7 linked regions of the Homo sapiens genome follow. The protein of the gene in region 6 interacts with the protein of the main gene of each other region in a biochemical or structural test. Each region holds a gene or a part of one and is shown on either strand. Other genes may lie near its edges.

What was found.
Region 1: the proteins of GRID2IP (region 6) and TMEM225B interact in a test that uses a peptide from one of them, tested with the Homo sapiens proteins (one large-scale study listed by IntAct).
Region 2: the proteins of GRID2IP (region 6) and MAS1 interact in a test that uses a peptide from one of them, tested with the Homo sapiens proteins (one large-scale study listed by IntAct).
Region 3: the proteins of GRID2IP (region 6) and CTNND2 interact in a test that uses a peptide from one of them, tested with the Homo sapiens proteins (one large-scale study listed by IntAct).
Region 4: the proteins of GRID2IP (region 6) and IQSEC2 interact in a test that uses a peptide from one of them, tested with the Homo sapiens proteins (one large-scale study listed by IntAct).
Region 5: the proteins of GRID2IP (region 6) and SHROOM4 interact in a test that uses a peptide from one of them, tested with the Homo sapiens proteins (one large-scale study listed by IntAct).
Region 7: the proteins of GRID2IP (region 6) and MAP7D2 interact in a test that uses a peptide from one of them, tested with the Homo sapiens proteins (one large-scale study listed by IntAct).

Annotation. Positions count from the first base shown.
Region 1 is NC_000007.14:99,596,972-99,601,066, forward strand, and holds the start of TMEM225B (transmembrane protein 225B), read left to right. Parts: upstream 1-1,295; 5' UTR 1,296-1,410; intron 1,411-1,632; exon of another isoform or gene 1,633-1,777; coding exon of another isoform or gene 1,778-1,831; intron 1,832-3,233; coding exon of another isoform or gene 3,234-3,314; intron 3,315-4,095.
Region 2 is NC_000006.12:159,904,488-159,907,987, reverse strand, and holds part of MAS1 (proto-oncogene Mas), read right to left. Parts: intron 1,069-3,500; 5' UTR 1,033-1,068; coding exon 55-1,032; 3' UTR 1-54. UniProt on the Homo sapiens protein: Receptor for angiotensin 1-7. Acts specifically as a functional antagonist of AGTR1 (angiotensin-2 type 1 receptor), although it up-regulates AGTR1 receptor levels.
Region 3 is NC_000005.10:11,341,447-11,344,946, forward strand, and holds part of CTNND2 (catenin delta-2), read right to left. Parts: intron 1-3,500. UniProt on the Homo sapiens protein: Has a critical role in neuronal development, particularly in the formation and/or maintenance of dendritic spines and synapses. Involved in the regulation of Wnt signaling.
Region 4 is NC_000023.11:53,314,851-53,318,350, forward strand, and holds part of IQSEC2 (IQ motif and SEC7 domain-containing protein 2), read right to left. Parts: intron 1-3,500. UniProt on the Homo sapiens protein: Is a guanine nucleotide exchange factor for the ARF GTP-binding proteins.
Region 5 is NC_000023.11:50,590,695-50,594,194, forward strand, and holds part of SHROOM4 (protein Shroom4), read right to left. Parts: 3' UTR 1-3,500. UniProt on the Homo sapiens protein: Probable regulator of cytoskeletal architecture that plays an important role in development. May regulate cellular and cytoskeletal architecture by modulating the spatial distribution of myosin II.
Region 6 is NC_000007.14:6,506,462-6,509,961, forward strand, and holds part of GRID2IP (delphilin), read right to left. Parts: intron 2,853-3,500; coding exon 2,497-2,852; exon of another isoform or gene 2,445-2,496; intron 1,941-2,444; coding exon 1,524-1,940; intron 1-1,523.
Region 7 is NC_000023.11:20,006,213-20,008,907, forward strand, and holds the end of MAP7D2 (MAP7 domain-containing protein 2), read right to left. Parts: intron 2,187-2,695; 3' UTR 501-2,186; downstream 1-500. UniProt on the Homo sapiens protein: Microtubule-stabilizing protein that plays a role in the control of cell motility and neurite outgrowth via direct binding to the microtubule. Acts as a critical cofactor for kinesin transport.

The sequences.
Region 1 (4,095 bases), about 93 Mb from region 6:
TTTTTAATATGATAGTGTTAACACTACATTACTAATATGTGTTAACACTATATTATTAATATAATAATGTTAATACTATTAACACTATATTATTAATATAATGGTGTTAGCACTATATTATTAATATAATAGTGTTAACACTATATTATTATTATTATTTGAGACAGAGTCTTGCTCTGTCGCCCAGGCTGGAGTGCAGTGGTGCCATCTCTGCTCACTGCAAGCTCCGCCTCCCAGGTTCACACCATTCTCCTGCCTCAGTCTCCCGAGTAACTGGGACTACAGGCGCCCCCACCACGCCCGGCTAATTTTTTGTATTTTTTAGTAGAGACGGGGTTTCACCGTGTTAGACAGGATGGTCTCGATCTTCTGACCTCGTGATCCGCCTGCCTTGGCCTCCCAAAGGACTGGGATTACAGGCGTGAGCCACCGCGCCCGGCCTAACACTATATTATGAAACACTATATTATTATTATAGTGTAGATACTATTACATTATTAATAGTGTTAACACTATTATCATTAATATAATAGTGTTAATACTATTAACACTTTATTATTATTAATTATAATATTAATATACGAGTGTTATTAATTATTAATATAATTATAATACTGTTAACACTATATTATTAACAATTATTATTAATATAATAGTGTTATTAATATAATATGTGTTAACACTATAATAGTGTTAACACTATATTATATTGTTAATATTATAGTGTTAACACTATTATATGATTAATAGTGTTAATCATGTATTATTAATATAGCAGTGTTAATAGTAACCCTATATTATTAATACAATAGTGTTAATGCTATTAACGCTATATTATTAATATAAGTGTTAACACTCAACACTATATTACTAATATAATAGTGTTAATAGTATATCATTAATATAATAGTGTTAATACTATTAACACCATATTATTAATACTATTATTATTCCCATTTTACAGATTAGAAGCCCAGGACCCAGGAAGGAGACACAGGAAATTTATTCAAAGTCCCCACGCTGGTAATGGCAGAGCTAGGATTTGAATTCAGATCCCTCCCGCTCTCTGTTCCTCCGCCCCCACACACCCGTGAGCGAAGCCGGTACTGTGGGCAGACGCCAGGGCCTGGTTTCCCCACCCTCCACCCGCCAGGTTTGCGGTGGCCGGGGCGGCAGGTAGGGAGGTGAGCCCGCGTCTCCTCCGCAGAGCTGGAGCTGGAGCTCCGCTCAGAGGCCCAGGCTCAGTGGGCTCCTCCCCCGGGTCGGGGCAACCCCCCGCCGGGGCCTCTGGGGCCAACGGAAGCTCCAGGAGCGCGGTGGAGCCTGGAGTGGAGGGCGAGGGTCCCACCGTGACCCGCCTGGAGGGCAGCCCAGCTCTGGGACGCGAAACCGCCTACGACGGTGCCGCAGGTGGAGGGAAGGGTAGAGGGGAGACCAGTATGGGGGAGAGCAAGGTGGCCCCACAGGTTGGGAGAGGATGTGGGGAAGTCCCCCTACCCACCCAAGGCCGAACATCGCCTAACTGGCTGTGGGACGCCCGGGGCAGGGGCTGGGGGCGGATGGCCTGGTTAGGGCCCAGCTTGGGGTCTTGAAAATATCCCTATGGCTTTGGGGCCACAGAAGGGCGGAGTCCTGGCATTCAGGGGAAAGGGCCGAGGACGGTTGTCAACGGGAAGGAACCTCTGACCCTACCCTGGGTCAATGTGCAGTCCAAGTTGCCACAAATGACCGGAGGAAACAGTGGGAAGGGAAGGTCTCTTTCCCATTCCAAACCAGGATGCCCTTCAGGTCGCCCACTTCCTTCATCCCCAGAGCAGCTGCCGACTTTCCTGTTAAGTGCCAGGGCCTGGGAGGTGCGGGGCTGCAGCTCAGGCGCTGAAGGGGGCCTAGGGTCCAGGAACCTCCTGCCAAGCCAGTGGTCCTCAGACGCTGGTCCAGGCACCACCACGGGGTACACAGCTTTTCTTACCTCCTGGTGTTATGGGTCCTTTCTGTTTTTTGAGACGGAGTCTCGCTGTGGCTGTGTCGCCCAGGCTGGAGTGCAGTGGCACGATCTCGCCTCACTGCAAGCTCCGCCTCCCGGGTTCACGCCATTCTCCTGCCTCAGCCTCCTGAGTAGCTGGGACTACAGGCGCCCCCACCACGCCTGGCTAATTTTTTTTTTTTTTTTTTTTTTTGTATTTTTAGTAGAGACGGGGTTTCACCGTGTTAGCTAGGATGGTCTCGATCTCCTGATCTCGTGATCCACCTGCCTCGGCCTCCCAAAGTGCTGGGATTACAGGCGTGAGCCACCGCACCCGGCCCATGGGTCCTTTAAAAAATAATAATTTGGCCAGACGTGGGGCCTCATGCCTGTAATTTCAGCACTTTGGGAGGTAAAGGTGGGAGGATCACTTGAGCCCAGGGGTTGCCTGGGCAACATAGCAAGACCCCATCTCAAAAAAAAAATTAGCCAGGTGTAATGGCATACACCTGTAGTCCCAGCTACTCGGGAGGCTGAGGCAGGAGGATCGCTTGTGCCCAGGAGGCATGAATGCACCACTGCACTCCAGCCTGGGTGACACAAGACCCTGTCTCAAAAAAGAACAACAACAAAAATTTGAATAAAAACCAAACCAGTGACAGTAGATAAGTTGCTTTGTTTTTAATGCTCTTGGCAAAATAAAAAGTTGGCAGTCGTATATTCCCCCATTCTCTCTCTCTTTCTCACACATGCACATGCCTATAAGAAAGCATTCTCTGGATCCACAGAATTCCAGATTTGGGAATCACTGAATTGAACTGCCGGCCATTGGTGGCTGGTGAGACTGTCCTGGCAGTGATGCAGTATTCTGGTCCCTGTGCCAGCACTGATGGGCTGTGGAATCCTCCACCAGTCATTCCCTCTCTCCAGCTCTCCATCTCTGCTTCTGTACAAAAGGATCTACCAATCCCCTCTTATATTCAAATATCTATGACCTTTCAGTCTGGCCTATATCCGTGCGGATCTGAAGTTGTGTATCCGAAGATGTAACCTTGTCCAGTGCTGGCACTAAGGGCTGCTTCAGGGAGGGACCTGGACTGGTGCCCAGGGAAAGGAGGACAAGGTCCTCATCACTGGAGAGTGGAGGGGGCAGTGGGAATGGGACAGATAAGGGGTAGTGCCCTGGGGTATACCTGGCCCCAAAGTAACCCCGGGCTGTGAAGACAAAAGCACTGCATCACATGATGTGTTTCTGTGTCTCTCTCCCTAGCAGTTCCAAGAGCCTCTGAGTTCCTGCCTTTTTTCATCTCTGAATCCCCACCATTGGCCTACATTGGGAGTGGGGCGACCTGTAAGTGCACAGTGAATTTTTGCTGAGGGAGTGGCTGGGAGGGCTGCGTGGAGTGGACAGCACCAAGCTGCACTTTTCAGGGGAGTGGGGTTTGGAAAATCTGGGGAGCAGAACAGGCACCCCCGCCCCCAGGAAGGAACCCAGGTGTATTAGTCTGTTCTCATGCTGCTAATAAAGACATACCCAAGACTGGGTAACTTATAAAGGAAATAGGTTTAATTGACTCGCACCACATGGCTGCAGAGGCCTCACAATCATGGCTGAAGGCGAATGAAGAGCAGAGTCACATCTTTCATGGTGGCTGGCAGGAGAGAGCTTGAGCAGGGGAACTTCCACTTATAAAACCATCAGATCTTGTGAGACTTATTCACTACCACGAGAACCGTATGGGGGAAACTGCCCCCGTGATTCAATTATCTCCACCTGGCCCTGCTCTTGACACATGGGGATTATTACAATGCAAGGTGAGATTTGGGTGGGGACACAGCCAAACCAAATCACCAGGTACAGAGGCCAGAGGAGCCTGGGGATGACGGTGATGTTCCAGGTGTGGAGGGAGACGTGGCAGGCGTGGGGACAGGAAGGTTGGAAGGTTGGGGAACTTTATGAAGGGAAAACTGAGAAGATGAGGAAGGCTGATGAGATGGAAGTGGGGTTGGGGAGAGGGAAGAACCAGCATGAGCTCAAGGCTAGGGTTTGGGTGAAGGAGAGAAAAAAAGGTAGAAAATAAAGGAGACAGAGATCACTTCTAGTCACATACAGGTGGAGATGGGGTAGACAG
Region 2 (3,500 bases), on a different chromosome or scaffold from region 6:
AACTAAAAATGACCTGTGTTCCACCATTTTTATCCACAACTTCCCTCACAGTTCTTAGACGACAGTCTCAACTGTGACCGTATTACAATTGTCTTTCTGGCGCCGAGGTTGCATTTCATCTTTGAAAGCCCTGGTCAGAACAACTTTTAAGGACTCCTTGAATCTCTTCTTCTTACTGCTTCCCACAAAGAAGTAAATGAAAGGGTTGGCGCTACTGTTGATTGTGGAGAAGAGCAGGGAAATGTGGTGTAGGTTCCCAAAGGTCGACCAATACTCATAGTACAGCAGGTAAAGGAGTCTCATGGGCATAGCGAAGATGAGGAATATAATGATGGTGACCATGATGACTATGTAAAGCTTGGAGGAATGGGAAGCCCACGTGTTCTTCCGGATCTTCACGACCAAGATGGTGCTGGACACCAGCATGAGGGGCGTGAAGACCAGGAAGCTCAGGATGGCTATAAAGATGATGACTGCTCGGCAGTCATTCCGAGAGTGACTCTCTTCTTCTCTGTCGATGCACATGACATACTCCATGGTGGTCACCAAGCAAGAAAGAGCCCACAGAAGGGCACAGACCAATGCCGACTGGTACTTGGGGCGATGGCATCGGTACCAGATGGGGTAAAGGACTGACAGGCACCTCTCCACACTAATGGCCGTCAGCAGATAGAGGCCCGTGTTGTAGCCAAACAGAAAAGTCACTGATAATGTGACAATTGTGTAGTAATGGCCAGAAGAAAGCTCATAATCTAAAGCATAGTCGATAGACAAGATGAAAATACAGAAGAGCAGTGAGATGTCTGCGATAGACAGGTGGGTGATGTAGACAGTGAAGGGATTTCTTCTCATCCGGAAGCACAGGAACCAGAGGAGAATCCCATTCTCAACAAACCCCACTGGGGAGATGCTCATAATGACCCAGTGCACGATGGGGATTTGCCGATGTGCATTCCCGACTGAGGCGTTCCTGCCAGTTGAGATGTTCGTGGGTTCCTCAACAACAAATGATGTCACGTTTGACCCATCCATGAGGAGGCCTCAGGTTGGAACTCTTCAGGTAATTTTCTGTAAATATGTCCAGAACAAAACAAACACAAAAAGCCATGAAAATTGTTGAATTGGAATAAAAGGGAGAAATTCAGCTATAAATCATAATCTTCATGTTATTAAAAAAAAGTTTAACAGACTCTACAGTTATCTTTGTCACAATGATAAGATTAGGCCTTTAGGACCTGATAAGAAAGGAACTTAGACCTGATAAGACTGAGAACTGATTGAATGACCCTTCTGGATCCCCAGTGATAACCATTCATTCTATATCATTGTGTGCTTGTGGCTTAGTGCCAAAAAGGAGATGGCCAGGCAAGAGTGGCCGAGTGCCCTGTGCGGGACCCATTTCCAGTTCTGGCCTGAGCTTTCCTAATGGCATTTTGAAAATCATTTCATCTTCTGTGCCTCCATTCATTTGCCTGAGGGACCAGGTGGACTGCATTAAGACTTGATGACAAAACGCATGTCTGGGCAATGCTGCCACTGTCATTTTTTAATACATGAAGTGCCATAAGCAGTAAGGAGAGGGAGTGCCTGGGACAATGGGTTTAATATTGTACCAATATTGCTTAAAGTGTGAACAATCAAAAGGCATTTATTTTACACGGCTTCAATATCTGCGACAAAGCTGGGCACCTGCTCAGACTACGTAAGCCAGGCAAGCCATTGATGTGTGGACTGGATGGAGAGCCCTAACAAGACGTATGTACGTCCCCACAGACCACAGGCCAGATGGTGCGGGAAACACCATCGCCAGATGCCAGACAAAGCACTCAAAAAAATTTTTTTTTCTAGTTTGTGTGCATGCATGTGTATGTGTATGTAGTAAAACATTGTTCTTTGCTTTCTGAACTTTGTCCATAAGAAGTTGATCAAAATAACTTTTTTTTTTTTGAGACAGAGACTTGCTCTGTCACCAGGCTGGAGTGCAGTGGTGAGATGTTAGCTCACTGCAACCTCCGCCTCCCAGGTTCAAGCGATTCTCCTGCCTCAGCTTCCTGAGTAGCTGGGACTACAGGCGCGTGCCACAATGCCTGGCTAATTTTTTGTATTTTAGTAGAGACGGGGTTTCACCATGTTGGTGAGGCTGGTCTTGAACTCCCGACCTCAGGTGATCCACCTGCCTCAGCCTCCCAAAGTGCTGGGATTACAGGTGTAAGCCACCGTGCCGGCCAATCAAAAGAATATTTTTAGTGAATAGATATCTGTCTTTTCCTCCTGAGCTCACCTGAAGCAGAATAATACATAAATGTGTTATTTCGTGGCACTTGAATGGTTCTGGTGATATTAGACATTTCTAGAATCAAGTCAGCAGAGCCCCAGCATGTGCAGGGCCCTGAGCTGTGATCTCAGTACAGCCGGGCCTGGACCCTGGACCAGCAGGTAGCCTTTGGGTTGGTGAAACAGGTGTTTCCTTCCAGCGATGTGATCCAGGCACCCAGGAGGACACTGCCTCCGTGGTCCCAATCACACCTATCCCATTGACACTTCCCTCAGCTGTTCTAATGGGATGCAGGAAATTACTTTCACTGGAGGAGAGCTTCCTTTTACTTCATAATTAGTAGACAGAGACCCGGAAAAGAACCCACACAGGATGAGAGCTCGCATGCCCTGTCATGCCTAACCAAAGCCCTGCTGTAGAGACCAGGCCTTGTTAGAAGTTTGCAAGTAAGACCACCATGTTCCCCAAATTCTCCCCCCACACATTTAGCCCATGCCAGGCACTGTGCTAGGCACTGGGACATGGCAGTAAATAAAACAAAGTGCCGGCCTGGTGGAGTCTGTATCCCAGTAGGGAGGCAGTCAAGCAAAATACAATAACAGCAACAACAATCAAACTGATGTCAGTGCGTGAACAGTTCTATGGAAAAAAGTAAAGCATCATTAAAGGAAAGGAGTGGCAGGGACCTGGGGGTTCCATCGTCCATAGTGTGATGGGAAACGTCTCACTCATGAGGTCACACTTGGGCAAAGACATGAAGGAAATAGGCGACCGAGGCCAGCAGGTTCTTGGGGGAAAAGTATTCCAGGCAAAAGAAACAGCAAGTTCGAAGTTCCAGAAGCAGGAGGCAGCCAGGAGTGAAGAACCGCAGAAAGGCCAGCAAGGCAGGAACGGCCCGGCAAGGAGAACAGTCAGGTGCTGAAGGCAGGGGTCTTTGGCGACCAGGTCCAAACGGGCTTTGTGGGCTGGTGCTTTTACCCCCAGTGAGATAATAAACCACAGGAGGTTCTGAGAGGAGGAATGTGGTTAACTTGGGGGACTGAGGCGTGAACAGCCTCGGTATGGCCCCTGTGTTCAGGTGACACTCTAGGGGCCATGGCAGGAAGGAGGAGGTCAGGTGGGAGGTGAAGGCACTGGCCTAGACACAGGGAGGATGTTAGCATAAATCAGGTTGTGGCAGAGGTAGTACTATCTGGTGGGAGGTCTTCGATTTGATTCACTGACG
Region 3 (3,500 bases), on a different chromosome or scaffold from region 6:
CTTCAAACTCCAGAAGTCTTTAAGTTGTGAATCCAGTATTTCTCCCCTTGGATATTTCCTCAGTTAAATAAATAATTAGTGAGCATTTGAAGTTAAAAGCAAACTACCCAGAGATTCATCACCTGAGAGAATTGGACCCTGAAAAATATGATATGTGGTTTACTGCAAACATTTCAGCCATGTTATTTGAGTTACATGGTAACAAGTTACATAATACTGTTTAAACTTTAATATTTAAAAAATATTCTTCAAGTCTTCATCTTTTTAAAAGCATTTTTATGCCAGGCACTGTAGCTCATGCTTGCAACTCCAACCCTATGGGAGGCCAAGGCAGGAGGATCACTTGAGTCAGGGAGTTCAAGACCAGCCTGGGCAGCACAGCAAGACCCCTTCTCTAAAAAAAATAATAAAAACAATTTAACCAGGCTTGTGGCCAGCCTGTAGTCCCACCTACTTGGGAGGCTGAGGTGGGAGGATCATTTGAGCCTGGAAGTTTGAGCCTGCAATGAGCTAGGATCACACCACTGCACTCCAGCCTGGGTGACAGGGCAAAACCTTGTCTCAAAAAATAAAAGCATTTTTATAGTATATTTTGTTTCCTGAGCTTTCAATTCACTATATATGCATGCGCGTGGGTGTGTGTGTGTGTGTCCACATGTGCACATGCGTCGTGAACAGTTAAAAAAAGAAAAAGCAGCATTTGGAAAACATTCTTTACCAAGGTTTACCTAGTAGTAAAATATTTATAAGTAATATTCATTAATGAGATTTAACAATAAAGTGTCCAACAATAAGATAAATGTTGTTACTATTTCGAAACAGCACACAAAATATAGTGGAAATGTATACATAATTCCTTAAAAGTGCATATTGTCATACTCTTAGTCAAATTTTGCGGTTTGAAACGGAACAAATCCATGGAGTGAGTTTGATAGAGCCGACTGAAAGTGCAGCTGCTATAATTTGGGCCCAGCATCAGCATTAAAAATGTGCCATTGTATGTATTCCTGTTATGATGAATAACAAAATAGAAGATAGTGTTCTATTGCAAATCACATTCATAAAAAGTGAGATTCTTTAAGCATGTTTGAAAAACTGCTTTCGAGATAGTGTACACCAAGGATTACAACATCTCAAAAAGGGATTAATCAAACACGATTAAAAGTTGCTATTACTGCTACAATTTACACATTATGTCAGTAATATATCTTAACCATGACTTTTATTATTTGATAGACAAGACAGTTATAATACCCTTAGTATATCTGGGTATATCAGTCTTGCTGTGTTTTTTTCCATTTGTTTCATCATCAAATTTTCAAAATGAGAATGCTTTTGTGACTTATCACTACCAACATGACTGACACTTCTTTCATATAATTTAAGAGTTATATTTGACTTTCATGTTTAAAAACAACAGTATATAGAACTCAATAGCTGGTGTAGTACCTACAAATATATTAGCTATGATAACAATCCTTAAGAGATTCACATTTTATGGAAAATAACATACAATTACAAATAAAATCTTCTTAGCAAATGGGGCTGTAAAGGGAATTTTACAGGTTTAAAAATGATCTCAGTGACTGCTGGCTTTACAAAGAAAATTGGATAAGACATTTCTGTGGGTTTTCTGTTGGCATATAGGATGACTAGTCAAAAGAGAAAAGACCAAAGCTTTGCCACAATCCAAATGACTGAGCCAACCATCAACAAGAAAATCCCAACCCCTCAGAACCAATCCTTTTGTATCCTATGACTTAGAGTCACAGAAAGTCAATATGGCTTCTCTGGTTTCAAGTCTAATGATGAAGTGGAACTGCCATGACTTCAAATTATTATTTCAAAATGCAGTATTTGCTTAAACACTTCTCACTGAATAATACTAAAACTCTCTAACAGAGAAGAGATACTGGTCTACAATAAGAAAAATAAGGTAGATGCCGGAAATGAAAAATATAACAAAGACCACACATCCAATAAGCAATCGATCAGGGATGCCAGAACTACTTAGACAATTTCCTTCATTCTTCCCAACTCCTACACAGATACTGGTACTGCCATTCATCCTCTGAAAAAAAATCATAAATATACTCTTTCTTTTTCCTTTTTCTTTTTTGTAAAGAAATAAAAATGTTCGTGCCAACATGTGCTGCAGTATGGATTCAATATGTGCTAACAATGTAGATGTAGGTCCGCACACTCACCTGGCACCAATGCATTTTCAAGAAGTCATTTAACATTCTGATTCTGCATTTATTTAAGGCATTAAATATGGGATATCAGTTTCTGCTCACAAAGGAGGATTACATCAAAGATGTAAGTAAGCCTACTTTGAAGATTGTAATGTGCTATAAACATATGTTTATAATGATAAAGAGGCTTACATAGCCTGGTGTTTGGCAGTAAATAAAATGTTAACAAATTCTCTTAAATATATGTAAATATATTTCAAAAGCTTGAAAACATTGAAAAGATTTAAATAATAAGCCATAACGCCAAAATAAATAAGTGTGAGCCCTAGAAGTTAAACATATTAGTTCTGGTAATATTCACCTATGAGGAATCAAATTATAATATTTAAGGGAAAATGCAAAAATCTTGTCTTAAAAGAATTACTATATTTTGGACCTGAAGTTTAAATTTGGCACGTCTCTCCATTAAATAAAAACATGTTGCCGGGCGCGGTGGCTCACGCCTGTAATCCCAGCACTTTGGGAGGCCGAGGCGGGTGGATCACGAGGTCAGGAGATCGAGACCACGGTGAAACCCCGTCTCTACTAAAAATACAAAAAATTAGCCGGGCGCGGTGGCGGGCGCCTGTAGTCCCAGCTACTCGGGAGGCTGAGGCAGGAGAATGGTGTGAACCCGGAAGGCGGAGCTTGCAGTGAGCGGAGATCGCGCCACAGCACTCCAGCCTGGGCGACAAAACGAGACTCCGTCTCAAAAAAAAAAAAAACATGTTGAGACATTCCTTAATTTTAAGAAAACCCGACAAGAAAGGTATTATATTACTACACTTTATGCTCCATACATTTTGCATGATGCCAGATAATGAATCCCTTTTATAATAAACCACAATAGTCCAGTTCTGGTTCTAGATTTGTTTTTTCTTTTCTTTTCTTTTTTTTGGGGGGTCTGTGGGTCTGAGCTCAGGATGAACTTATAATTCATATAGCACTAATCTGCATACAAATTTGACGCATACAAAAGCTTAGTGGTCAATATTCTCTTATTCATTCTAACCCTTCTTATTGGTGTTTTTCTTTTTTGGTTTATAGCAGGCACTCAATAAATATAAGTGACATAATCCATAACTTGAAAAGGTAAGAGCTGTGTCAATATATTGAGAGAAGAAAAAAGGCTGTAAAAATGACAGTAACATAAAATGGAAAGGATACGCCATTTAATAAAATAAAATGCATTTAATACACAGTATTAAATACAGAAGCTATGCTACAGCTAGAGAAATATAATTTGGTTTCTTATTAAGCTAAATT
Region 4 (3,500 bases), on a different chromosome or scaffold from region 6:
GAGACCATGGCCAAAATTCAGGGGGTGATGGTGAGAGGGAGCCTGCCTAGAGCAGGGGTCCTGGGAGCTCTGTTGGAGGAAGCTAGAGCCACATACCTGGAGTAGCTCTGATGTCTTTAAAGCCCACCTGCGGGAGGCAGCGGTGTACCATAGGTTTGGAAGCCAGACAGTTCTGGGCTCCATCTGCCTGAATAACCTCGGGCAGGTCACTGTACCTCTCTGATCCTTGTTTCCTTGTCTGAAAAAATGAAGATAATAGGCTGGGCGCAGTGGCTCATGCCTGTAATCCCAGCACTTTGGGAGGCAGAGGTGGGCGGATCACCTGAGGTCAGGAGTTCGAGACCAGCCTGACCAACATGGTGAAACCCCGTCTCTACTAAAAATACAAAAATTAGTCGGGGGTGGTGGCACGTGTTTGTAATCCCAGCTACTCGGGAAGCTGAGGCATGAGAATTGCTTGAGCCCAGGAGGTGGAGGTTGCAGTGAGTCAAGAGTGTGCCATTGCACTTCAGTCTGGGCAACAAGAGTGAAACTCATAAAACAAACAAACAAACGAACACACCCATCTGACAGGGGCTCTGTGCAAATGAGGTAAGAAGTAGTGCTCCAGGGTGGGTTAGAACACTGCGGACCCTGAAGCCCAACTCCCTGGGCTCCTCCAGCTCCTTCACAGTTCTGCCACTTATTCATTGAGTGATCCTGGGTATGCTATCCAACCTTTCTGGGCCTCAGTTTCCTCATCTGTAAAATGGAGTTAATAACAATATCTACACGAGAGGATTCATGTGGAGATTGAATGAATTAATACATGGAAAGCGCTTAGAACAAATAGTGCTTAGCACACAGTAAGAGCAGTGAAAAAATGTTAGCTATTATTACATAAAGTCACATAGCGTGGGGCCTGGCAGAAGGCTGAGACTCACTCGGTACACGTGTGGCCTCTTCCCCATGCTCCAGGCCTTTACTCTGCGCCCAGCAAATTCAGAGACCTTGGTAGGCAGGGGTGGGACAGATGAGGAAAGGGCAGGCAGCAAGTCTGGTCTGACGTCTTCCTCCCAGCTGCCACCTCCATGAAGGGACCACTCACATTCCTTCCATACCCCTCATCCCTCACCCACCGCCCAGGTACTCAAACAGCAGCCTGGCCTGGCCTGATCCCTCCTTCCTCTGAGAACTTCCACTCCTCACCATTCTTGCCACTCATTTTGTCCTGAGTGTTGCCTCTATGGCATGGCTAGGCCTGCAACCCTGTCTCCCTGGATGGAGGGGAGCAGGGGTTCTGCAAGCGCTAAGAGTGCAGTGTTTGCTCAGCCTCGTGGCCCCTCCTGCGCTGTGCACACAGCCAAGAAATGTTTGTAGATGATAACAACCCCATTCTTGCCCCAGATCTAGATAGAGAAGCAAGACTCTCATTCTCATTAAATTCAACATTACCATTTCCTCCCACACGAAGATAATGCTCACAACACAGTGGGAGGGAAGATAAATGGTTTTCCCTCCTGGGAAGGAGAGACACCCCCTGGGAAAAGTACCCAAGACCCCAAAGGAGAGACTTCCCTGAGCCTCTCCCTGGGCTCACTGTCTCACGTGCTGTCTCTCAGTGGCCTTAGCCCCTGCGGGGAGCATGCTGACATCCCACTGCAAGCAGACGACAGCATGTGGTAGACCATACACTGCCCTAGCTGTCAAGAATACCACGTTGGGCCGGGCGTGGTGGCTCAGCACTTTGGGACGCCAAGGAGGGAGGACCGCTTGAGCCCAGGAGTTTGAGACCAGTCTGGGCAACACAGAGAGACCCCGTCTCTGCTTAAAAGAATTGGGCGGATAGCAACTAGAAGGGCCAGCCTGGTGTTCCTTTTTTGCAATTATTGCTCACTGCAGCCTCAAACTCCTGAACTCACTTGAGTAAGCTATGTTCGCAACACTGCACTCCAGCCTGAGCAGCAGAGCAAGACCCCTGTCCCAAAAACAAACCAAAACCAAAAAAAAAAAAAAAAGAAAAAGAAAAAAAACACCACCAGGCCAGCCCCTCTAGTTGCTATCTCCAAGTGTAAGCCAGCTTGCAGGGTGGATGGGGGTGGGGGTAAAGGAAGGAGAGTTGCCACCATACCAGCTTCAGCCCACCACCGCCTACAGCAGAGCCGGAGCTGGGCCCATGCAAAGAGCGTGGGAAACGCAGCTCTTCAGCGTGGAGCAACTCAGCAGGGGCCCCTAGCACTCCTATATATCACTCTAGGTGGCAGGACTGCAAGGGGGCCAAGCCAAGATCAACAACAAAAGCAGAGCTATTCTCTAATCAACCAGGCTTGGGGGGGTATGTGGACAATTCCAGGTAAAAAGACCTGAGCATTAGTCAGGACCAACGACTAAAAAGCAAGCAAACAAAACCTTCGCGTACAGAGGACCCAGGACCAAAAGGAGACAGGGACGCATCTCACTCTATCTGCACTAGAAAGGCCACACCCTGAGCACAGCAGAAGGGATACTGGCATCCTGGAACCTGTCCAGAGGGGACGGTGCAGGAGGATATGGGAATCCTGGGTGGATGACATGGATGGGGGTGGACATGACAGCTGATGTCCAATGCAGTAGAGGGAAAGTTCACAGGATTGGGAGTCTGTCTTATGAGTAATGTAAGCTCTGGTGGGCTTCACTTCTCTGATCCCCCAGTTTCTTCTGCTGTAAAATGTGGATCGTGGTGACAGAAGCACGGGATCATTGGGAGGACTAAAGAAAGTCCCTAGGCACAGCGGGGCCCCCCCAACAAGCTGCAGCTCGGCCCAGGCACCACTCTCCCCTCTTCCTCCACCAGGGGGAGCCTGGGGACCAAGAGAGCCCAGCCTGTACCCGCTCTACCTAGCCTCCCCCAATGCTGCAGCCTCTGCTGCTAAACTCCCACCCTGCCTGCCCTCGCTTCCAGCGGCTTCTCACCCACTCCTTACAAACCCAGAACAGACCTAGCAGGGGAGTCGCTTGCAGCAGCAGCAGTGACAGCAATGGCTACTGCATCAACAGGCCCTCCTGATGCCAGGCCAGGAGGGAGAGTGGAAAGGAGGGAGACAGAGCCTTCTTCCCTGCCGCTGTCAACTCCCCACTCATCCCAGACTCATCTCCTCCTGCTCAAATCCTCTAGAGACCTAAGGCTCTCCTGGCCTCTCCTAGCTCAGTGCCAGGCCAGGTCCTGAGGCTAAGAGACTCCTGTGGGTTGGAGAGCTCTAGAGAAAAAAATACCAGGCCTTGGAGACAGGAAGACTTGGGTTCTAGTCCCAGCTCCATTAGCAACTAGTAGGGTAACCTTGAGTGAGGTCCCTTCATCTTGGAGCCTCAGTTTCCCCATCTCTAAAATGCAGTTGCCAACACTCACTGCAGAAGGCTTGTTGTGAAGTCAAAAAGAGGTAATAATGGGTGTGCAAATAGTTAATATATGGTCAGGAGAGAAACTTAAAGTACTACCTAAACCCCTTTATTAATCCAGTAGGAAATGCAAAGCAAGGAAACGC
Region 5 (3,500 bases), on a different chromosome or scaffold from region 6:
TTATTTAAGACAATCAGTCTATGGTAGTATGTTATAGCAACCCAAGCATACTAAAACACATATTTTCTTTGAAGAAATGTCTATTACAATCTGTTAACCCATTTTTAATTGGTTATTTTTATCATTGAGTTGTAAGAGTCCTTTTCATATTTTGAAGTATCTGATATGCAAATATTTTCTCCTAATATTATGTTGCTTGTCTTTTCACTTTTTTATATGGTATATTTTTAGCACAAAAGTTTTTAATTTTGATTTACTCCAATTTATTTCTATTTCTTGTATCACTTGTGCAAATCGTCTTAACATTAGGAAGACTTATTACAATGTTTTCTTCTAAGAATTTTATAATTTTGACTCTTACATTCTATAATCCATTTTGAGTTGATTCTTGCATGTGATTTAAGGAAAACTTCATTTTTTCCCATGTAGATACCCAGTTGTCTCAGCATCATTTGTTAAAAAACTATTCTCTCCTCAATTTCTCTTGGGACCCTTGTTGAAATTAACTAACCATATACATGAGGATTTATTTCTGGACTCTCAATTTAATTCCATTTATTTATACACCTACCCTTGTGTCTGTACCACACTGTCTTGATTACTGTAGTTTTGCAGTAAGTTTTGAAGTTGGGATGTATGAGCCCTCCAACTGTTCTTTTTAAAGATTGTTTTGACTGTTCCAGGTCCCTTGTAATTCCATATGAATTTTAGAATCAGCTTGTAAACTTACACAAGGAAGCCACTGGAATTCTGATAAGCACTGGATTGAATCTGTAGATCAATTTGGGGCACATTTCATCTTAACAATACTAAGTCTTCCAATCCATGAACATGGAGTGTCTTTCCATTTATTTTGATCTTCTCTAATCTCTTTCAACAATGTTTTATAGTTTTCAGTGTAAAAGTTTCGCACTTCTTTTGTTAAATTATTCCTAAGTACTTTTTTCTTTTTGATGCTATTGTAAATGGAACTGTTTTCTTTCTTTCTTTCTTTCTTTCTTTTCTTTCTTTCTTTCTTTCTTTCTTTCTTTCTTTCTTTTTGAGACAAAGTCTCACTCTGTTGCCCAGGATGGAGTGCAGTGGTGTGGTCTCAGCTCACTGCAATCTCTGCCTTCCAGGTTCAAGCAATTCTCCTGCCTCAGCCTCCCGAGTAGCTGGGACTACTGGTGCGTGCCACCACACCTGGCTAATTTTTTGTATTTTTAGTAGAGATAGGGTTTCACCGTGTTAGCCAGGATGGTCTTGATCTCCTGACCTCGTGATCCACCTGCCTCGGCCTCCCAAAGTGCTGGGATTTCAGGCGTGAGCCACCATGCCCGGCCGGAACTGTTTTCTTAATAACATTTTCGGATTGTTCATTTGATCTTGTGTTTTAACCTTGTATCCTGCAACTTTCCTAAATTCATCCAGGCAGGTAGTTGTGAGCAACACGAGAAGAGCAAGAATATGCCTGGGATAAGGAAAAAATGAATTGAGTAGATCAGGACTATAATAATGGTTACCATGTACTGAATATGTTTTCAACAAGTCAGTACTTCCCATGCTGTAATATGTTCATGAATCTCCTGGAAATCTAGTTAAAATTCAGACTGCTATCACTGGGTTTGGGGTGGGCCTGGGATTCTGCCTAATAACTTCTTGGATTGTTAGTGGCTTTTATTTATTATTTTCAAGTTACAATAACTGCAAGCAAGATAATACTGTTCCCATTTTACAGATAAGAAAATGACCTCAGAAGTTGAGCTAGTAGCCCAGGTTCATTGAATAAGTGGCAGAACCAGGATTTGAACACAGTTCATTCTAATGCCAAAGCTGGACTCTTTCTACTCTACCACAATGGATATCTTGAGTAGAAGGAGGATAGTTGGAATGTGAACAGAATATGGATCACGAAAAAAGAAAGCTTTTCAATGTCAGAGTTGCTTCCTGGAATACATTTGAGTCTAATCTTTGAGGTTGCCTTGGAGAGCAGATCACCAAGGCCCTTGCTTTCCAGGGAGCTGAGCATGAAGGTGTGAGATTGGACTATCAGCTAGAAGTAAGATGAAAATACTAGACAGAATTCAAGATTGGAAGAAGTCTAGAAAGAATGGCTTACCTTCGATCAGGCTAGACTCCAGAACTAGACTCTGTATACTGCTTAGGTCTATACCTGAGATTACACCTATTGTTGACTTTTTCTGCATTCTAAACATGGGGTTAGACTGGATGTGATGTTGCCACTGAGTAACCAGAGAGGAAGAAATATATCAGTGAGCTAAAGGGCAGGGCTGTGATCCTGAGATCCTTCTGAGTAGAAAAATACCATGCTTCAATACTGTGATAACAACAGAAATAACCAATGGCTTAAACTCTGTACCCCCTACTCAGGATGGTCTTGAAATAGATGTCTAAAAGCTGTTCCCCTAAAAAGGCTATGGCAGATCCTGCTATTTAACTGGGGATGATGAATGGTATAGCATCAATACCATCCCTCAGAGGCCAGGGTAAGGGTTTAGGGATGTGGGTAAGGGTCTGGTCATATGTTTATCTGTGAAGGACTATGGATAGGTGACCAAATTCCTTTCCAGTACTTTTCAGCAGAATCTTTAGACTTCCATCACCTGAGTTAAAACACATGAGATTTTTTTTTGTCCTTAGCACCTTTTATTGAAATATGACCCTTGATGACAATCTGGCAGGCATATCTATGTCAGCCAAGAAGGGAGTGGTGGAGGACACAAATGCAGAAACAACAAGATTTGGAAAAAGAATAGCTTCACATGGGATAGATGACCCCCAACAGCTGTACAACCAACACTGGTTCTTCATCTATAGAAACTGTCCCCTGCCCCACCCCCCCAAAAAGATCTACTAATCTTCAAATAATATAATATGCTGTTGCAGAAATATTATTGGCATAGACGACTCCTCTGGCAAAGCTCCAAATGGGTGGAAGTGGCCAGAAATGGGCCCAGCTTCCTCCATCTGGGGCTTGCTACTGGCAGAGCAGCACTGTCAGGGAGGGTCGGGTTCAGGATGTGGCTCTGGTGTGCCTGGGCAGCTTTATGGCACATGAGGTTAAATGGAAAACAGAACCTGAACCTAACCTTGAAGGAGGCTTTTTATCTTTTCACCTCTCCTTTTCTTTGCTTCCAATTTCTTCCTTTCTAGGGCTTTATTTTCAGTGTCTCTGTCTTATTCTGTCAGATTCTACTTGGGCATTTACAGCTATATCCTGGTTGAGTCTCCAGCTGTGGGACTCAGGAAGATTCAATTATCCAGAGCCCTGGGAGGTGGCAGGAGGGGTTGGGGGGACATGTGATAGTAACTCATGCACTGACTTCTCTATCAGCCATCATGCTTGCCTATTACCCATGGGGGCCTGTATAAGTATTTGACGGGAGACAGCAGAAGTTAAGACTGATAACTGTCTTTGGGGATCTCCCTTGGCCTGCCTTCCAAACTGCTACTCACTGGCAGGCCTTGGAGGAGGGCTGAGCCCAGGAACTGAGAACAGG
Region 6 (3,500 bases):
GCAGGGGAATGAAGTCTTAGAACATGGCTGCAGGGCAGGGACACTGAGGATGGATTTGGGTTTGGCCACATGTGTGACCTGTGTCCCTGTGTCCACCTTTGGTAACCAATGGAAGAACCACGCTGTGGAGCAATACTTGAAGATCGGTCCAAGGCTGGCAGGAGTGAGGTCTCCAGGGGACCCAGGAGGTCCTTATTTGTGCCCTTGTCTCACTGAGGTATTTTTTTTTTTTTTTTTTTAGATAGGGTCTCACTCTGTACCCCAGGCTGGAGTGCAGTGGTGCCATCTTGGCTCACTGCAACCTCCACCTGTGGGAATCAAGTGATTCTCCCTCTTCAGCCTCCCGAGTAGCTGGGACCACAGGCATGCACCACCAGGTCTGGCTAACTTTTTGATTTTTTTGTAGAGACAAGATCTCACTATGTTGCCCAGACTTGTCTTGAACTCTTAGGCTCAAGCAGTCCTCCCGCCTCAGCCTCCCAAAGTGCTGGGATTACAGGCGTGAACCACCAAGCCTGGCCTCAATGGGCATCTTTATTAGCAACTTGGAAAGGGTCCCTGGAGATGTGGGCTGAGAAAGCAGGAGACAGAATTGGGACCCAGGAGATGGCAGTGGGGAAAAATCACAAGCATGCCTCTGCCCAGTGTGACTACATGTGAGAGTGAGCTATTGATCCCAAGAAGATGGAGTTGAGGATGATGGTGATCATGAGCACTGGGACGGGGCAGCCCTGGGAGCTGGAAGGAGCCCCTGCCATATTAAAAGGAGTATGATGTCCCAGTCAAAGGAGCTGAGAACCCTGTTCTCTCCTCTGAGCTGGTCAAGCCCCATTGGGGGTTCCATCTGGGAATGTCTCTTTGACAGGGACATGGACACTGGAGTGGGGGTTGGAAACCATGTTCTAAGAGAATGATCTGAAAAAAAAAAAAAGGGGTGGGGTGAACCTTGTTCATCTTGCAGATTGGTTGGTCTGTGGATAAGATTGCTCTGCCCGATTTTAAGGGCCAGAAAGAAAACAGGGCATGGGAATCCTGGGGAGACAAGATTTCAGAGCAAGACAAAGGATGGTTAAAATCGTCCAGTGAGGAAAGGAAGACCTTGACAGGTAGTGAGTTCCCCACCACTGAAGGTGTTCAAGCATACACTGCCAGTGTTGTGAGGGAGGAACTTCAAGCATCAAAGTGAAAGGGTGAAGGCTGGTGTGCAGGAGTTTGAACCAGCTGCTCTTTTAAAGGTTTAAGAGAACTTGTCTGGCCTCAAAAGTGATAGGTTTCAAGGATGGGTAGGGTGGCATTTCCAGGTGTCCCCAGTGTGTGTCTTTGGCTGAGGGACACAGATTGGCTTCAATGCCTGCAGTGGCCCCCAAGCGTGGGGACGTTCTTGGGCTGGGCCTCTACTCATCCTCTGCTTGGGGTAGGGAGGATGATGTTGGAAGATGCCTGGCCGATGGGTTTTCCTTCAGTGCTGCTGCCCAAGCCATCCTCCCCCAGTACAGAGCGCTGCTGGGTCCCAGGTCACCTACCTGACCCCAGATGGTGCCTTCTGAGTTCTCCACCTGTTCCCACCGCAAGCGCTTGACGCTCATGTGGCTGGTCTCACTGCGCCGGTGGCCCAGGCCCCGGGACAGCATGGGGGGTGCACAGGGCACGGGTGGGGGCAGGGGCGGTGGGGGTGGTGGAGGGACTGGGTGGCTGAGTTGGGTGAGGGGCTTGGCCAGCGCCTGAGCAGGGCCCCGGGAACCATCAGAGCTGCGGGAGCTGGGCTTAGCGTCATGGAAAGGCAGGGGTGGCGGTGGTGGGGGGCTGAGCGGGGGTGGGGGGATGTGGTCAGAGATGGAGGAGTAGGTCAGGGAGCTGCCTTCTTCACTGCTGCTGATGCAGTCGCTGGCGCTGCTCCGCTCATTGGTTACGAAGCTGCCCTGGTCATCATGGAAGCTCATCTGGTGGTGGGGAGAGAGGCAAGGGGAGGGTGAGGCTGGGCCCAGAGAGACTAGAGCAGGTGCAAAGTGAAGGATCATGGGATAGCCTGGGACAAGGACAGGGCCATCTCACGGGTTAGCCTCAGGCTGTGAGGGACACCTGGGCTAAGGATAGGACTGTCTCACAGGTTAACCTCAGGCTGTGAGGGGGATAGCCTGGGCTAAGGATAGGACCCTCTCATGGGTAAGCCTCAGGCTGTGAGGGGGATAGCCTGGAATAAGGACAGGACCCTGTCACGGGTTAGCCTCAGGCTGTGAGTGGGATAGCCTGAGCTAAGGAATGGGCTAACCTGCGACAGGGAATATGGGCTAGCCTCAGTCAAGGAGCATGATAACCTTGAACAGGAGATAGGGTAACCTGGGGCAAGGGGTGGGATAGCTTGAGCTAGGGAGTGGGATAGCCTGGGGAAGATCCCAAGGGCAGCAGGCCCCTTGCGGGAGCCCAGGAACACTGTTGCCTTGCAGACCGCCACACCTCGCCTCACCCGCCTCCCTCCACACCTGCTTGCGTGCCCACCTCCTCGTAGTCGTTCTCCGGGGTCAGGAAATCATCCACGATGGTGACCCGGGGGCCCAGCTGCTCGCTCAGCACGTCCAGGAAGCGGTCAGTATCGCGGCTTCGCACAGGGTGGGAGAAGGTGAAGAGCTTCCTGCGGCTGGGCGGGCGGGTGGGGTCCGGGCTTGGGGGGCTGTCGGGGCAGATGGGCCCGGGGCCTGGCTGTGGGGAGGGTGCCCTGCTGCTGTCCAGGCTGGCGTAGGGGTGGGACTCAGAGCTGCTGGGGGAGGCCAGACCCCCCGAACACAGCGGGTGGTAGCAGGGGGAGGGCAAGAGTCGCTCGCTGGGCCATGAGACGCCGGACAGGGTCCTGGGCCCTGGAGGAGGGATGGAGTATGAGGATTCCTCTTCAGCCAGCACCGAGGTTCCAGGTGCAAGCTGGAGAGAGGGTCCTAGGACAGACTGGCTCTGTGTCCCAGGCCACTCTCCTTTCCCTCTCTGGGCACAGTGCAGGAAGACCTTGAGCGGCCCTGCCTTCCAAGCATGACTAAAGGCCAGATCTGGTGAGCAGGAGCACTGCTCGGCCTCAGGACAGGCTGGACGCCAGCTCACCTTGGAATGGTCACCAGGGGTCCCAGCTGGGAGCCACTGAACACCATTAACTCAAAGGGTGGAGGGGTTTCTCTAGGGCCCAGAGCCACAGTCATGGAGCGTCTCGCGCACCCAGCAAGCCCTGAGATCACAGGAGGGCCTCCCAGGGCTCCTGCCTTCTGAGCTGCAGAGCAACTGTCTTCCCAGCTGTGCCAACGCTGGTACAACGCGTTGCACTTGATCATTTATCCAATAACCACTTGCTAACTCGGGGACTTCCTCAGAATCAGGCATCTGCCTTCTTTCTTTTTCTTTTTTAAGACAGGGTCTTACTCTGTTGCTTATAGGCTAGAGTGCAGTGGTTCGAAATAGCTCACTGCAGCCTTGAACTCCTGGGCTCAAGTGATCCTCCCGCCTCAGCCTCTTGAGGAGTT
Region 7 (2,695 bases), on a different chromosome or scaffold from region 6:
TCTCTAATTCCAGTCCTGCCCACCTGGCTTCTGGTCTGGCCTGGTACTGTCTCCAGGCAGTGGAAAGCCTGTGAGTTAGACATTAAAAAACAAACAAGCAAACAAAAAAAACTGGTCTGGGTTTCAACTTACCTGAAAATAAGGGTCAACATTCCCATTATAACTTTATTTAAATGCCAAATTGCTATGTGCAATGTTATCATAGATTATGGTAAGGTTAACTGTATCTTAGCTAGAAAGCCCTCACACCAGTGGTATGAAAGTACAGGAACTTGGCTGGGCGTCGTGGCTCATGCCTATAATTCCAGAACTTTGGGAGGCTGAGGCAGGAGGATTGATCACTTGAGCCTAGGAGACCAGCTTCAGCAACATGGTGAGACCTTGTCTCTCCAAAAAAAAAAAAAAAGGAAAGAACAGCAACTTTTTTTTTACTATACTCAGAAGTCCATTGTGTTCTAGTGACAGTCATCACTTAAGAAGCTTTATGCAGTTGACTCCACTTGGCACTGGCAACAAAGGAATTTTTAATGAGTTTGACAGGGAAAGGACACCCACACAGGATTTTTTGGTTTTCTTCTACACAGGTTTTTAAAAGCCTGGTTTGGTTTCAGCACATTGAGCTTACAGAAAAAATAAAACGCTAGCAAGTCATCAGACTCTTCAATGAAAATGTATTTCACATTAAACACAAGGTACATATCATGCAAATGAGGCATCACCATGGTCACAATGGTGCTGTGAGGTACAACAAATCACAAGAAAACAGACATTTAGCAAAATAAGGTTCCAGGAAAGATGAGAGGCATTTTCTGAAAGCCAGACCATGCTATGGTTTCTGTGTGCCTGTCATAAAGGGACTTGGCCAGTATTTGCCGAGATGGACAGCACCGCATTATGTGGAGGCATGTACTTTATTGAGTAGAGACACATACACAGACATATAATTTCTGTAACTAATACATTCTTAAATGTAGCTGGCTGTAAAAGCACATGAACAAGATTACTACTGAGACTTCTTTGTATCTCCTGGTTGCAAACCTCTCTCAGAATTATGAATCTTTCCAAACCCTTAATTATACAAGTCAAAACAAAAAGTTTCAAAGAAGAAAAGGTCATTTTAATTTGAAAGCCACATTTCGCCACAAGAAACAAAATTAAGAAAACACACCATTATATGGCATAAAATGTGTGGAGTATACATTCTAGTGTCATTTTTCCCATTCAGATTTTTTCTTGAAGTCCATTAAAGTGACATACTGGGTCCAATGTGGGCCCCCTATTGTTTCAGAATGCTATGGTTTTTGTTTGCGCCTGGTTTTATTAAAGCTGGGCAAACACAGGAGCAAACAAAGAAAACTCCCAAGATCCAATAGAAAAAAAATTAGCAAGAACATTGAAAACCAACCACCTGCACGCGAGACATAGGATTCATTCAGCTGGAAAGCCACTCCATGGTCTGGAGTGACTACAGCATGAAGATTTTAAGGTGTGACACGAAAGAGTCCTTGCTAGATTCAGTTGCCCATGTATACACGAATATGCATAAGAGAACAGAAATCATTACTGACTGTTTTGACTTCCTTCCTCAACCAAACTTACTACTTTAACCCCAGAAGAATAATGTGGGGCAATGCATTTCTGCAGGTGGCAAAGCTTAACAACAATTTTTTAAAGGCTTCTTGATACTGCTTTCCAACAGAGAAACTCTGGAGATGGGGAACCTCCTGAATTTCTTCTCTGTCTCAAAAAAGACAGGGAGATATACAGTGCAAGTTGAGTATATGTTGAACTAGAGTTTGGGTAAATGTCTAGAATATTTTACAGGAAAAGACATCTAAATGTTTATGTGCTCCAACTTTGGGAATAAGAATGGTTATAAAGCGAATTGCCGAGCCAGTCACTCAGGTTATTCAGAGGGTCACTATGATAATAGAGAAGTTCAGGAAGTGCTTTATCAGTAGCTGAAGCTCATAAACAGAACTGTAAAAGGAAACTTTGCTAAAGCCCAGCAAGGTGAAAGTTTCAAGGTTTCTACCAAGAGTGGCCAGTGTTTGACATACTACCTAGGAATACAGTTACATTCCGAGCTAATAATTTGGGATCCAGCGGTAAGGGTGACAGAAGCTTCTTCAAGCAGCTAGTAGCTCGGATTTGACTATCAGCAGCTTTACGGGTTCTCCAAACACCTGTGTCAATTCAGAAACAAAACCAGATGAGATCAAAGGGAAAACCAAGTATTGTGCAGTTTGTAGCACTATTCTCTCACTAAAACGATCACAACACACTGTGGCACTTTCTACCTTCTTGGCAATTATATTTTCCTCCTGGGCTTATACAGTATTTCTCAACAGAAGTGATAGAGTATTTTACATAGGACTATTCTTTTAGATGGGTCAAATTTTCCTTGTATGGAACTTTTCTAAAACCTGCAGATATTTAATGTCTCAAGCTTTGTCTTTCAAATGCCCCCAGCCACTCTGGCAACAAAAACCATCAACGTATGTCCAAACGTCTCCTGGTGGGGGTGGTACCACTTTTGGTAGAGAAGAATTTGAGAACTAGACCCAATCATAATTAAAAATATACAAGCAGTGTGAATAAAATAATTTGAGATTTTTCTTTTTGGACAGGGGTTTTGCATTTCTTTTAGAGATGTAAGAAATAAATTTGAGGACCTATGAATACTCTAATAAAT